3 separate regions of the Homo sapiens genome follow, and regions 1 and 3 are each linked to region 2. Evidence: fine-mapped expression QTL. A gene starts in region 2. Each other region holds a variant in brackets. All regions are shown on one strand. Distances are between the middles of the regions.

What was found. PIP is the estimated chance that this variant, and not a neighbour inherited with it, causes the effect.
Region 1: its variant is the best candidate, but not a certain one, in a credible set for the expression of BORCS5 in whole blood (INTERVAL, PIP 0.52).
Region 3: its variant is the best candidate, but not a certain one, in a credible set for the expression of BORCS5 in NK cells (Schmiedel 2018, PIP 0.55).

Annotation. Positions count from the first base shown.
Region 1 is chr12:12,514,961-12,519,185 of GRCh38, forward strand. The region is part of intron 3 of DUSP16 (dual specificity phosphatase 16); the gene reads right to left. Among named protein-coding and RNA genes, the nearest start is that of DUSP16, 46 kb to the right of the region's middle. The variant G/A (reference allele first, on the strand shown) is at 2,072.
Region 2 is chr12:12,354,652-12,358,876 of GRCh38, forward strand. It overlaps BORCS5 (BLOC-1 related complex subunit 5), which reads left to right and starts at 2,427. Exons shown (of 4, transcript NM_058169.6): 1 at 2,427-2,858. The coding sequence starts at 2,801. It overlaps LOH12CR2 (loss of heterozygosity on chromosome 12, region 2), which reads right to left and starts at 2,416. Exons shown (of 2, transcript NR_024061.1): 1 at 2,277-2,416; 2 at 757-2,154. RefSeq lists enhancers at 2,212-2,890, 3,777-3,856 and a silencer at 2,757-2,836.
Region 3 is chr12:12,422,844-12,427,068 of GRCh38, forward strand. The region is part of intron 2 of BORCS5 (BLOC-1 related complex subunit 5); the gene reads left to right. Among named protein-coding and RNA genes, the nearest start is that of BORCS5, 68 kb to the left of the region's middle. The variant A/AT (reference allele first, on the strand shown) is at 1,763.

The sequences.
Region 1 (4,225 bases), 160 kb after region 2:
TTGTACAATTTCTATACCCAGATTACCTATTGCTCCCAGGAAGTTGGTCTTCTCTACGTTTATGACTTCTCATTACAAGTTCAAAATATAGTTTATCAGACACAAAGGACTTTATTAAAAAGAAAAAATATATAGTTTATTCTGCCAATATTTTCCTATAATTCTAATTATTTAATATACTTAATTATATAAGCTTTCCTGAAATATTCTCAATAGAATTAGATTCTTTTCAAATTATGAGAAACCCAGTTAATTTTTTTAGCCAAATAGGAATTACAGCATTTTTCCCTTCCAAAAGCCCATCCTAGATTATAAAATCATTATTATGATACATTTATGTTACACCCATTTTTTTACTCTATTAATATGCTTTTTTTTTTTTTTGAGATGGAGTTTCATTCTTGTTGCCCAGGCTGAAGTGCAATGGTGCGATCTTGGCTCACCGCAACCTCTACCTCCTGGATTCAAGCAATTCTCCTGCCTCAGCTTCCTGAGCAGCTAGGATTACAGGCATGCGCCACCACACCTGGTTAATTTTGTATTTTTTAGTAGAGACGGGGTTTCTCCACATTGGTCAGGCTGGTTACGAACTCCCAACCTCAGGTGATCCGCCCGCCTCGGCCTCCCAAAGTGCTGGGATTACAGGTGTGAGCCACCGCACCTGGCCAATATGAATTCTTAAGTCTAAATTTCAAGGGGGGTTGTGGGGAAGATATGCAGGTCTTTAAATTGTACTTATTCAATAACCTGACTTCAAAATTGAAAAAAAAAGGAAACAATGGTTTGCCATTACCTACCCATTAATGGTAATAGAGAACTTTTTTTTTCTTTTTGAGACAGAGTCTCACTCTGTTGCCTACACCAGGGTGCAGTGATGCGATCTTGGCTCACTGCAACCTCTGCCTCCCGGGTTCAAGCAATTCTCCTGCCTCAGCCTCCTGAGTAGCTGAGACTACAGGCAGATGCCACCATGCCCGGCTAATTTTTATATTTTTAGTAGAGATGGGGTTTTGCCATGTTGGCCAGGCTGGTCTCGAACTCCTGACCTCAGGTGATCCACCCACCTCGGCCTCCCAAAGTTCTGGGATTACAGGTGTAAGTCACCATGGCCGGGCAGTAATGGAGAACTTTCTAAAGCATCCAAATTTGTTTTTTTTTTAAGATGAGATTGCTACTGATAATTTTGTGTTTTGTTTTTTTAGAGACAGGCTCTCTGTCACCCAGACTGTAGTGCAGTGTTGCAATCACAGCTCACTGTAACCTCGAACTCCTGGGCTCAAGCAATCCTCCCCCATCAGCTTCCCGAGTAGCTGGAAATAGAGGGGTGCACCACCACACCCAGCTGCTACTGATATTAAACCCTTTAATCCACTGGGAGTGAAACAATGCTATGGCTTAGTTTGACTTGGTTAGTAGGTTATTTACTAATGACTAGAGCAATCAATTTACATTTACATTTTTAAAAATACAATAATTATTCTGACTGTTCTCAATTAACATGAATTCAAGGACTTGCGTATTCCTATGAGTGGAGCTAGATTTCTAGGGTTGTTAGCTCTTTATCAAATATCAGTATTTAAGGACCACAGAAAATTAGCACTGTTTCACTACAGCAGCATTTTCATCAGATTTTAATACCATCTTCACATCTGCTTATATGGATGAAGAAAGTTTCATATTAGATATTTTCCCATCGCAGCTATATATTTGCTTTATCAGAATAAATACACCTTCCAAATCACCTATTTTGAAACAATCTGAAGTTTTCTCTACTTTCAGACTTCATCACTGCTTAATATGCTTATATTCTAGACTGATAAATCATAGGAAATATAAACAATATAAAACCTTCAGGTAAGCTAATATCAAAATATTTACTGAAAACTTAAGAAGGGCTAGGCCTTGCGGGAACACAAAGGTAAACAAGACCTGGTCCATATTAAAAAACTAAGCCCACTGCATTCCTGTAGAGGTTCCCCAAATCCCACTTCCTTCTCCTTCAGTAATCCTTCATTTTTCATGACCATGTAAGTAGGTCCTCCAGGTAAGTGTCAGTCTCCTCTTGTTTGAA[G/A]GAAAAGAGCTCGTTAAGATACTGCTATCAATTTCTTGGGAGTCCTCTTGTTCTCCTTATTCACAGTCATTCTTCCGTGGGTAAGGTAGCCCTGAGAGTGTGAGTAGATGTGGGGCCACAATTCCTCACTGCCATAGCTAATGACCATAAAAACCATCTCACATATCTGATGCTTTCTTTTCTCAAGGTGGCTGAAAGTTCTAAACCGATGGAAAAATTATTCCAAGAAACCACTTTGTCTTTCTATTACCATGTCCAAACGAGACTGACAACAATCTCCAACTGTTGAAAGTCACAGGGGCAGTTTGTAGTGAAAATTGTCTCCAGTGACCTTGTAACTTACAGTAGCCCCTGTGAGAAACTAGGGTGCTTTTCAGTTATTTCTCCCCAACCAAAATATTTAAGAAACTTTTGTCAATATGTCCTTCTGTCCCACATCCCTGGCTTGTCCTCTGAGCAGCTGGACCTTTGCAATAAAACAGTTTCCCAAGAATTGATGGCCAAACCTTCTCCAATACTGTTATCCACTTACCCCAATTATCTACCTACCCTGACGAAAAAATTCACTAACCAAGAGAATCCCCAATTGCTTTTGGATGATTGGGAAGGCTTCTAATCATCTAGAACCCTCTCTTAGGTGTCACAAGAAATCCAGCTGCTCAGAAATTCCCAAACAAGCAATTCAGACTCTGAAGTCACCTCCTAAGCTAATAGAAACACAGGATTCTGGAGGTATGGATGAAGATATGGTGCTACTAATACATTTAATGTGGCTCCTGGTGCTGCCTCCATGGACTTGCCGTTAGGCCTAAGAAACACTTCCTGTTTGAAACAGGGATGTCAGGGTGTTCTGACTCAGTGTGTCACACCACGTGTCCCTAGAGTTGACATAGCTAATCAGGCAGTCCTGTTTCTTCCTTATTGCCCAGTGAATGCCCCTCCCAAGGCTACACAGGATAGATTAAGAACCTTCCCAGGTAACAAAGGAATGCTCTTTGGTAAAGGAGTAAAGGGTACAAGTAGCTAAAGCACCTGTGCTAGAAACTCAATGTGAGCTCACTCCTCTGGGGGGCTGTCTACTTGACCGAGATGTTGAGTAAGGTCTCCCCATAGGGTAAAAGTAACTCAAACAAGAACATGGTGGGATAACCACTCTGTCACGAAGCACATCTTGGCATATTGCTTCTTTAAGAAAGACTCTGGCTGGGTGTGGTGGCTCATGCCTGTAATCCCAGCACTTTGGGAGGCCGAGGCAGGCAGATCACCTGAGGTCAAAGTTCGAGACCAGACTGGCCAACATGGTGAAACCCGGTCTCTACTAAAATACAAAAATTAGCCAGGCGTGGTGGCAGGTGCTCAGAATCCCAGCTACTTGGGAGGCTGAGGCAGGAGAATCGCTTGAACCTGGGAAGCAGAGGTTGCAGCAAGCCAAGGTCACACCACCGCACTCTAGCCTGGGCGACAGGGCAAAATTCTGTCTCAAAAAAAAAAAAAGAAAAGAAAAACCCTGATCCCATTAACAGGATTCCAAGGTAAAGTCCCTCACACAGTGGCCACCTGAAACATGAAATGAGTTCCTAAACTCACCCAATTAGTTTAGTGAAATGCTAATAATAGCTGTTACATTTAACACACTCATACTCCCAGTAAAAGAATGTGTCTATCAACAGAGACAGAATCTAATATTATAATTCTCAGTTACAGACTTCTGAAAACTACATTCTAAGACAAGCTGGCTTCACTTAAGAACACTAATTGAAAGATCAGACGGAATCACAGCATAAATGAAAGGTGTACAGATAGACAATCTGAAAAAGATGAACTATCCTTGTTCTTAGAGAACTGAGGAAAAGCTTGTGAGAGAGAACTGGAGACATGGAAATCTTATCTAAACCTGCCCAGAGTTTAAAATTATTAACACACCAACAACTAATTAATCTTAATGTTTTGTTTTTCTTAGACCAAATGTTTAAAAGCACTCTTGCCTATCACTGAAGCTGAATCCGCCCAACACAGCAGCTTTATGTTAAGGTTACTGTGTGTTGTCAAACTATATTCCCAGCTCTATGAGCCCACAGGGCAAGGGAAAGGATTTTCATTTGCAAAACGAGAAGCAAAGGATGAATAGCCTTCTTTGGAATTTGATGGGATTAA
Region 2 (4,225 bases):
TTTTACTGAATATAGCTTTATGGATATGGAATTTGTATACCATACAATTTACCCTGGTAAAGTGTACTCTACAGTGGTTTTTAATATATTCAGAGTTGTGCATTCATCATTACAATTTTAGAACATTTTCATCAACCCCAGAAAGAAACCCCATACCCAATAATAGTCTACATTTCCCTTCCACCCGTACCCCTCCTCGGCCTTAGGCAACACTAACATATTTCTCTCTCTGTAGTGCTTCTCCTGGACATTTCATATAAATGAAATCTACAATATGTGGTCTTTTGTGATACGCTTTGTTTTTTTTTTTTTTGAGACGGAGTCTTCGCTCTGTCGCCCAGGCTGGAGTGCAGTGGTGCGATCTCTGCTCACTGCAAGCTCCGCCTTCTGGGTTCAAGCGATTCTCCTGCCTCAGCCTCCTGAGTAGCTGGAAATACAGGCGCCCGCCACCACGCCCGGCTAATTTTTTTTGTATTTTTAGTAGAGACAGGATTTCAGTTTGTCAGCCAGGATGGTCTCAATCTCCTGACCCCGTGATCCGCCCGCCTCGGCCTCCCAAAGTGCTGGGATTACAGGCGTGAGCCACCGCACCCGGCCTGACAGGCCTTTTTCATATTGAATAATGTTGTCAAGGTTACTCTATGTTGTAGCATGTATCAGTATGATTTCATCCTTCCCTCATTTTGGCTGAATAAATATTCCATGATTACCACACTTTATTTATCCATTCATCAGTTGATGCGACAGACTATCCTTTTAAGAATGAAATGTTTATTCAAAAGGAAGCATAAAAAACACCATCACATCAGTATGGACTGGTGTATGGAACACAAGACAAATATACTTTTATGTGGAAAAGGGGAAACAAGAACCAGAATGAGTTATTCTCCATTCCTCACCCCTTTTACCTCCTCTCTCACCTTCCCCTCAAAGAGGAAATCTGGGAGGGGATGCAAGGACTCTCCAAAAGGGAATGGTCTCACTGCTTAGTGGGCCCTTCCCAGTCCCATCAGCCTGGTGTGGTTTATGTAAACCTCAAGACTAGTTAGACACAACTTTCTAGAAGCCTGCCCTGATCTCTCAGGCAGTTTTTAGTTCTATCTTCATATTCCCAGAGAACACTGTACTTAGATTCATTTGCATTTTTCTCATTGTATTGCAATGGTGAGCAGAGGAAAGAGCATCAGATAGTCCTAAATAGTTCGACCACTGACCACCTGCTGACCATGGAGGAGTCACCTACTTACAGGCTGCAGGGTTGTTGTGAAAATTAAATAAGGTAAAATAGGGGAAATTATTGTGATATAGTAGAGTGGAAGGGACTTAAAAATCATTTAGTCAACTTGACACTTCTTCTGAGACTTTTTTTTTTTTTTTTTTTTTTGAGACGGAGTCTCGCTCTGTCGCCCAGGCTGGAGTGCAGTGGCGCGATCTCGGCTCACTGCAAGCTCTGCCTCCCGGGTTCACACCATTCTCCTGTCTCAGCCTCCCGAGTAGCTGGGACTACAGGCGCCCACCATCATGCCCGGCTAATTTTTTGTATTTTTTAGTAGAGACGGGGTTTCACCATGTTAGCCAGGATGGTCTTGATCTCCTGACATCGTGATCTACTCGCCTCAGCCTCCCAAAGTGCTGGGATTACAGGCGTGAGCCACCCCGCCTGGCCAGAGACTACATTTTATACATATAAAATCTCAAGGCATTTACTTGAAATTTCTTGACGCAGACAATGTAATATAAAATGAGTTGCAAAGTTCGGAGAACGCTAGAGCCAGCTAACTCCTTGATGGCATTGCATTGCTAGGTCTACTTTCTTGCCCTAGCAAAAATGGCAGTTTCCTTTCTGGATTACTCCCTCCTCACCTTCTGTTAGTTTCAGAGTGACTTGTTGATAACTGCCAAGGTCCCCAGAAAGCGCCTAGCCAAAAAGGTTCTTCACTTCTCTTTAAAGATGTGCACTCCCTAATACATGAAACAGCATTTTCTATTTCTTAATTTTTCTCTCATTTCCAGCTGCTGCTTTCACCGTCTTCTGGTATTTTTTTGTTTGGTCGTCCACTGCTAAACTCCCAGCTCTTCAGAATTCAAAATGAGCTTTGCATCCAAGCTGTTGTGGGTTCGAATCCTGGGTCTATCTAGCGTTTCTTTCTCCATCTGTAAAACAGGGTTAAAAATACCTATTTTGTAAAGTTGTTCTCACATGTGGGTATTGAAGAGCTTAATAGTGTGGGTGGTGTTTTAAAGGTGACGCATCCTTACAACAGGAAAGGGCTTACCCTCTTCCGCAGTTCTGGCTTCGAGGAGGTCAAGCCCTTTAAGGTGGCATCGCCCTAAGTCGCAGGAGCGGGTCTCTCCGCCCCTCCCTCGGGCCGGGGGGCGGGGCCTCCTAATCCGGAACTGAAGGTCTTGCGTAGCCGGCACCGCCCATCTGCGTCCCGGAAGGAGCGAGCTTGCGGAGCGTGAACCAGTGAGTGAAAGCGGCGCCGCCCGCCGGCCGCAGGTGCGGCAAAGCCAGTGTCATCTGCCGGTTCTCTTAGGGCTCCCGGAAAGAAGGAGGGCTAGCCGCGTGCGTTCGCGCCGCGCCTCCTTGCGTTTCTGTTCCCCAAATAGGGCCTCTCCTTCTCCCGCCGCCCAGGCCCCTGCGTGGGCTGGACGCGTCAGCCCCACACATTAGCCTCGCTGCGGCGCCCAGACTCTGCTTTGCCTCCCCGTCCCGGTCCCTGGCCCCTGCCCTGTCGCCCGCCGCCGGAGCGGTGACCGCCCGGCCCGCCGTTCTTCTGCTGCCACCGCTGTCGGCACCATGGGCAGTGAGCAGAGCTCCGAGGCCGAGAGCCGACCCAACGATCTGAACTCCTCAGGTCGGTGTCCTAACCTCCCACCCTCCTCCAGCCCGCCCTGTCCCCTTGCAGAGCGGGCTGCCTCCCAGACTAGGGTCAGGGACTGCGGACGGGAACGCACAGAAAAAGCCTTCACCGTGCTAGTAGGAAAAAAAAAAAGTCACCATCTGTCCTGGCCTCGATTCCCCTGATGGAAGTGCGTGTGACTGCAAGCTAAGCCAGCGTGGGCGCCAGTGCCCTTATTTATTTTCAAAACAGCCGTTTCTCCCAGCTACAGCCTCCTGTTTAAAAGACGAGCTAATTAATTTTTGGCTCTAGTGCTCATGGCTGATGTAGTGAGATTTGGCTCACACAGTGGATGGATTATAGGACCTCTAAGAACAGTCTGTTTCTTAAAAACGGGTGTTAGAGGTTCCTTTTCTGAAGGGATATGTGATAGGTGTCCACTTGCTTTGAACCCTTTAGTGCAAAGGTCTCCAGAAACAGCTTTTTCTTCTCAGAAGGTGTCTTGGTCCGTTTTCTAATCTTGTAGAGGTTGGCCAGACAGCAGGCACTGGTGTTTTCCATTGTTGTTCTCTGTCCATGATTTTTAGACTTCTCTAAGCGTTTGAGACAAGAATGGGAGGATTATTGTGTTTGCAATACAGTGAGTGTTCAATAAATAGATAAAGCAGCTGATGTTTAATTGAGGACCATTTGCTGCTTTTTTTGTTACCCACACGCTAGGACAGCTGGGAGTGCTTTGGTTAAGCTCCGGGGTTGCTAACGCAAATTGGTTAAATCTGGGGCCTAAAAAGAGTCGCCGATTTTAGAAGTTCTCTGTTCTTGATAGGAGCTGTAATTCAGAAATAGGCAAGCTAATAGATCTAAGGGTGTTTCACTTTAAGGTGTGACTTTCAAGACTAGTTCAGACCTACATTCTGGGGACTGGATTGGGGCAGCTTTGAATGGTGAGCAGCATCTACTAGCTTTGCTACGTTTTTCTATTTCCTTGGAAGGGCCAGAGTGTCATATCTGTTATAAGAAATATAATAATTGCCACCTTTGACATTCTTGCCTCTATGGCAGGGCAGAAACATATTTTAGGGGGAAGCGGTGTGGCATCTTTTTAATTTGTTTTCTTGCCCATGAACCAACAGCATTCGAGCATTTCCGATGTTAGAATTTGCCTATTCCCCTGTGCCCGGTACTTTACATACATTTACATATAATTTTTGCAGTAATCCCATTTTACAGATAAAGTAGTAGAGGTTAGCTAGAGTGTTTTGAAGTCCCCTTTCCTCTGGTATCTGGGGAAGGAGGAATCACAATTTATAGCAGGAAAGATTTCTGGCATGGCTTTTGTAAAATGTTAGGTAAATTACCAAAACAGGTAAATAAATATTTCT
Region 3 (4,225 bases), 68 kb after region 2:
TACAATAACATTAGCTTTTAGACTAATTTTTTTTAATGTATCAGTCTCTTAACGCAGAAAGCCAAAAGTGGAGCTACAAACCATGGTTACAAAAGAGTTACGAACCATGGTTACAAAAACCCCTGTAAATACATGGGCTTTTTTTTTTTTATTTTTTATTTATTTTTTTATTTTTTGAGATGGAGTCTCACTCTGTCACCTAGGCTGGAGTGCAGTGGCGTGATCTCGACTCACTGCAAGCTCCGCCTCCCGGCTTCACGCCATTCTCCTGCCTCAGCCTCCCAAGTAGCTGGGACTAAAGGCGCCCGCCACCACGCCTGGCTAATTTTTTTGTATTTTTAGTAGAGACGGGGTCCCACCGTGTTAGCCAGGATGGTCTCAATCTCCTGACCTCGTGATCCACCCTCCTTGGCATCCCAAAGTGCTGGGATTACAGGCATGAACAGTACATGGGCTTTTATAATTTGCCATATATTTACCTTTACTGAGATCTTTATTTCTTCACTCAACTCTCTAGTGTGCTTTCATTTCAACCTGCAGGACCCCCTTTAGCATTTCTTGCAGGGCAGGTCTAGTATTAAGAAACTCCCTCAGCTTTTTTTTTTTTTTTTTTTTTTTTTTTTCCTGACTGATACGCTTAATTTCTCCCTCATTTTTGAAGGATAGTTTTACTGGATATAAAATTCTTGGTTGACAGGTTTTTTGTTTTTTGTTTTTTTTTCTTTTAGCAGTTTACCACCTTATGGCCCCCTAGGTTTCTGATGAGAAATCTGTTGATAATCTTATTAAGGTTCCCTTTTATGTGATAAGGTGTTTTTCTTTTGCTGCTTTCAAATTTCTCGTTGTCTTTTTGTTTGTTTTTTGAGACAGAGTCTCAGTCTGTCACCCAGGCTAGAGTGCAGTAGTGCAATCTCAGCTCACTGCAACCTCTGCATCCCAGGCTCAGATGATCCTCCTGCCTTAGCCTCCCAAGTAGCTGGGACTACAGGCATCTGCCACCACGCCTGGCTAATTTTTATATTTTTTTGTAGAGATGGGGTTTTGCCATGTTGCCCAGGCTGGTGTCAAACTCCTGACCTCAAGTGATCTGCCCACCTTGGCCTCCCAAAGTGCTGGGATTACAGGCGTGAGCCAGTGTGCCTGGCCCTTTCTAAAGGTTGATTATAATGTGTCCTGGTGTGGGTCTCTGAATCCTGTTTTGAGTTTGTTGAGCTTCTTGGATGTTTGTATTCATCTCTTTCATCAAATTTGGGATGTTTTTGGCCATTGTTTCTTCAGATGTTTTCTCTCCCTTTCTCTTTCTGTTTTCCTTTTGGGACTCCCACAATGCATACGGTTATCCACTTGATGGTGTCTCATCAATCCCTTAGATCAGTTCACTTTTCCTTAATCTTTTTTCTTTCTGTTCCTCAGACTAGATAGTATTCATTGTACTCATTATTCACTCATTCTTTCTTCTGCCTGCTCAAATCTGCCTTTGAATCCCTGCATTGAATTTTTCGTATCAGTTATTTCAGTTCCAGAACTTATTTTTCATTTCTTTTTAGGTTTTCTGTCTCTTTATTGATATTTTCCATTTGTTTATACATTGTTTTCTTGGCTTTCTCCATGTCTCCTTTAGCTCTTTGAGCATCTTTAAGACAGTTGTTTTAAAGTCTTTGTCTAGTGGATTTGCCATTGTCTTTTTTCAGGGACAGTATCTGTTGGTTTATATTTTTCCTTTGAATGAGCCATACTTTTCTGTTTCTTTGTATGACTGGTG[A/AT]TTTTTTTTTTTTTGAAAATTGGACATTTAAATCCAGTAATATGGTAACTGTGGAAACAGATTCTCCCCCTTCTCTGGGTTTACTGTTTTTTGGGTTTATTTTTGGTATTTTGATTGTTACAGGATGTGTCTGTGCCAAGAATCAGCCAGAGGTATACATGTTAGGTCTCCTCAGATCTTTTCTGAGCCTGTGCTCTTCCCTGGGCATGCATAGCAACTTTCTAATTTCCCCTATATATGTGGTTGCTTTTGAATATCCTGGTCTTTAATGTCCGGGTCCCAGAGAGGGAAAAAGAAAAAAGTGAAGGAGGGTGAAAAAAATGCTGCCCCCTTTAATCCTCTGAAAGTCACTTCAGCGTGAGTGGGAAGACCTTGCAGCAGTGTGGTGGAGGTGCAACAACAGTGATTACCGTCTGTGTCTCTGTCTGCACCTTTGTGATCAGAAGCAGCCAACATTGATCAGAGCATAGATTCATATTTAGAGGACAGGGTCCTTTTCTCCCCTGCTGTCTCCCACAAACTGTGTGCAAGCCACTCCAGGAATAAGTGCGTAGCTGCCTGCAGTGGGGATGGGAGCTTTGAGATGGCTGGTGCTATTATGATGACAGCTGAAATAGACTGAAAGTAATTATAATTCATCATCCAGGCCTTCCTCTGGATGTTGCAAGCCTTCAATAGACTCTAGAGCTACAAAATAGTTACATCAGACAGAGTGCACCAGTGCAATTATTTAGTTGGGAAGATAAATTCCTGGTGCTTCCTACCACAGTCTTCCCCAAATTCCCTTTTTAGTTACTTTTTTTAGGAACCCCCATACTGTTTTCCCCAGCAGGTGCACCATTTTACATTGTCACCAGCAATGCACAAGGGTTCCAAGGATATGGAGAACATCCTTGCCAACACTTGTTATTTTCCATTGTTTGGATAATAGCCATCCTAATGATTAAGTGGTATCTCATTGTGTTTTGTATTTCCCTCATGATTAGTGATGTCGAGCATCCTTCATATGCTTATTGGCTGTTTGTATATCTCCTTTGGAGAAATGCCTATTTAAATCCTTTGCCCAATTGTGTGGTTTGTTGTTTTATCTTTTTAAATTTAGCTCCTTTTCATATTTGCCTTCCTTATAAATAACTCCTGCTTCTTCTGGTAATCTGCTTGAGGAATGAGATCATTTCTTTGCTATTTCCTACAGTGCTAGTACATAGTAGTGTGTGCCTGGTAAACACTTATAGTGGTAGGATAGGCCAGTCATACAGCCAGCTTTTGAAAGCCTGCTTAATTGACTACTACAGTTGGTGACTGGGGACTTTGAGACAGTGAGGAAATTAACACGAATTGTGTGCCTCCTCTTTGCTAGGTGCTGTGGTAGGCATAACTTTATATAGTTCCCATAATACTCCTTTAATATGTCACACTTACAGATGAAGGATTTGAATTAAGGGAAGTTAAATTTAGACTCCCTCAACATCACACAGGTTTTAAATGGCAATCCTTGGATTCCAATTCCGGGTCTACCTGACTCCAAACTTTTTCATTATACCATGTGGTCTCCCTTCCCTAGTCTGGTAAGTTCAAACAGAGAGCAAGCCTGCGAACCTGGAAATTGTTTAGGGCAGATGAGCAGTTGAACATTTACTTAATAGGAGACAGAGAATCGTGCTATATTGCCGAGGCTGGCTTTGAACTTCTAGGCTTAAGCAGTCCTCTCACCTCTGCATACCAAGTAGTTGGTAACTACAGCCTATTCCATTTTACTTAATTATTCAAGAGGAAAAGGTAGAGATTGTGAAATGCTAATTTTATAGCAGTGAACAGGATTCCTCGAAGACACTGAGGTGTGTCGTTTGTGGATACTGATGACCTTTGGAAATACTGTGTCTACTTTTGGGTGTGACATCCTCTGTTCTTGTTTCTTTGGTACCATAAATTAGGGCCACTGGCCATGGCCAAATGGGTGCCTAACACAGAAGGATGAAGTGCTTTTCATTGCTTACCACAAATTCCCTTGAACCCTTTACTTCTCTGAGACTTAAGAAATGCAAGAATAAAGGGAACAGAGTTTTATCAAAATCCTATTGTGTGCTAGGCAAACCCTAGAAGGGACATGATTATTATCTTGCTTTTACATATGAGAAAATTGAGGCTCAAAGATGTAAGATAAATTGTCCAGATTCACACAGCTAATAAATAAGGGAGCTGAATTCAGCTTTTTCCATGCTGCCTCCATTAAAAAGTTCCTCTGTCTTGCCCTCTGGTGGGTTTCGGAGGTCCTGGGAGAAATGTTTGTATCCTCACCAAACATTGTGGTGGGTGGCATCTTACATGGGGCTTGTTCTGCACTTGCAGTTTCTTCTGCCACATGGTTTAACCAGAGCAATGATGACTGCCGTTGCCCCCTCGAGGTTAGCACTCCTCTGAGGTCACAGGGTGGGGATAAATGTTCTGAAGGAATCAGCCTTA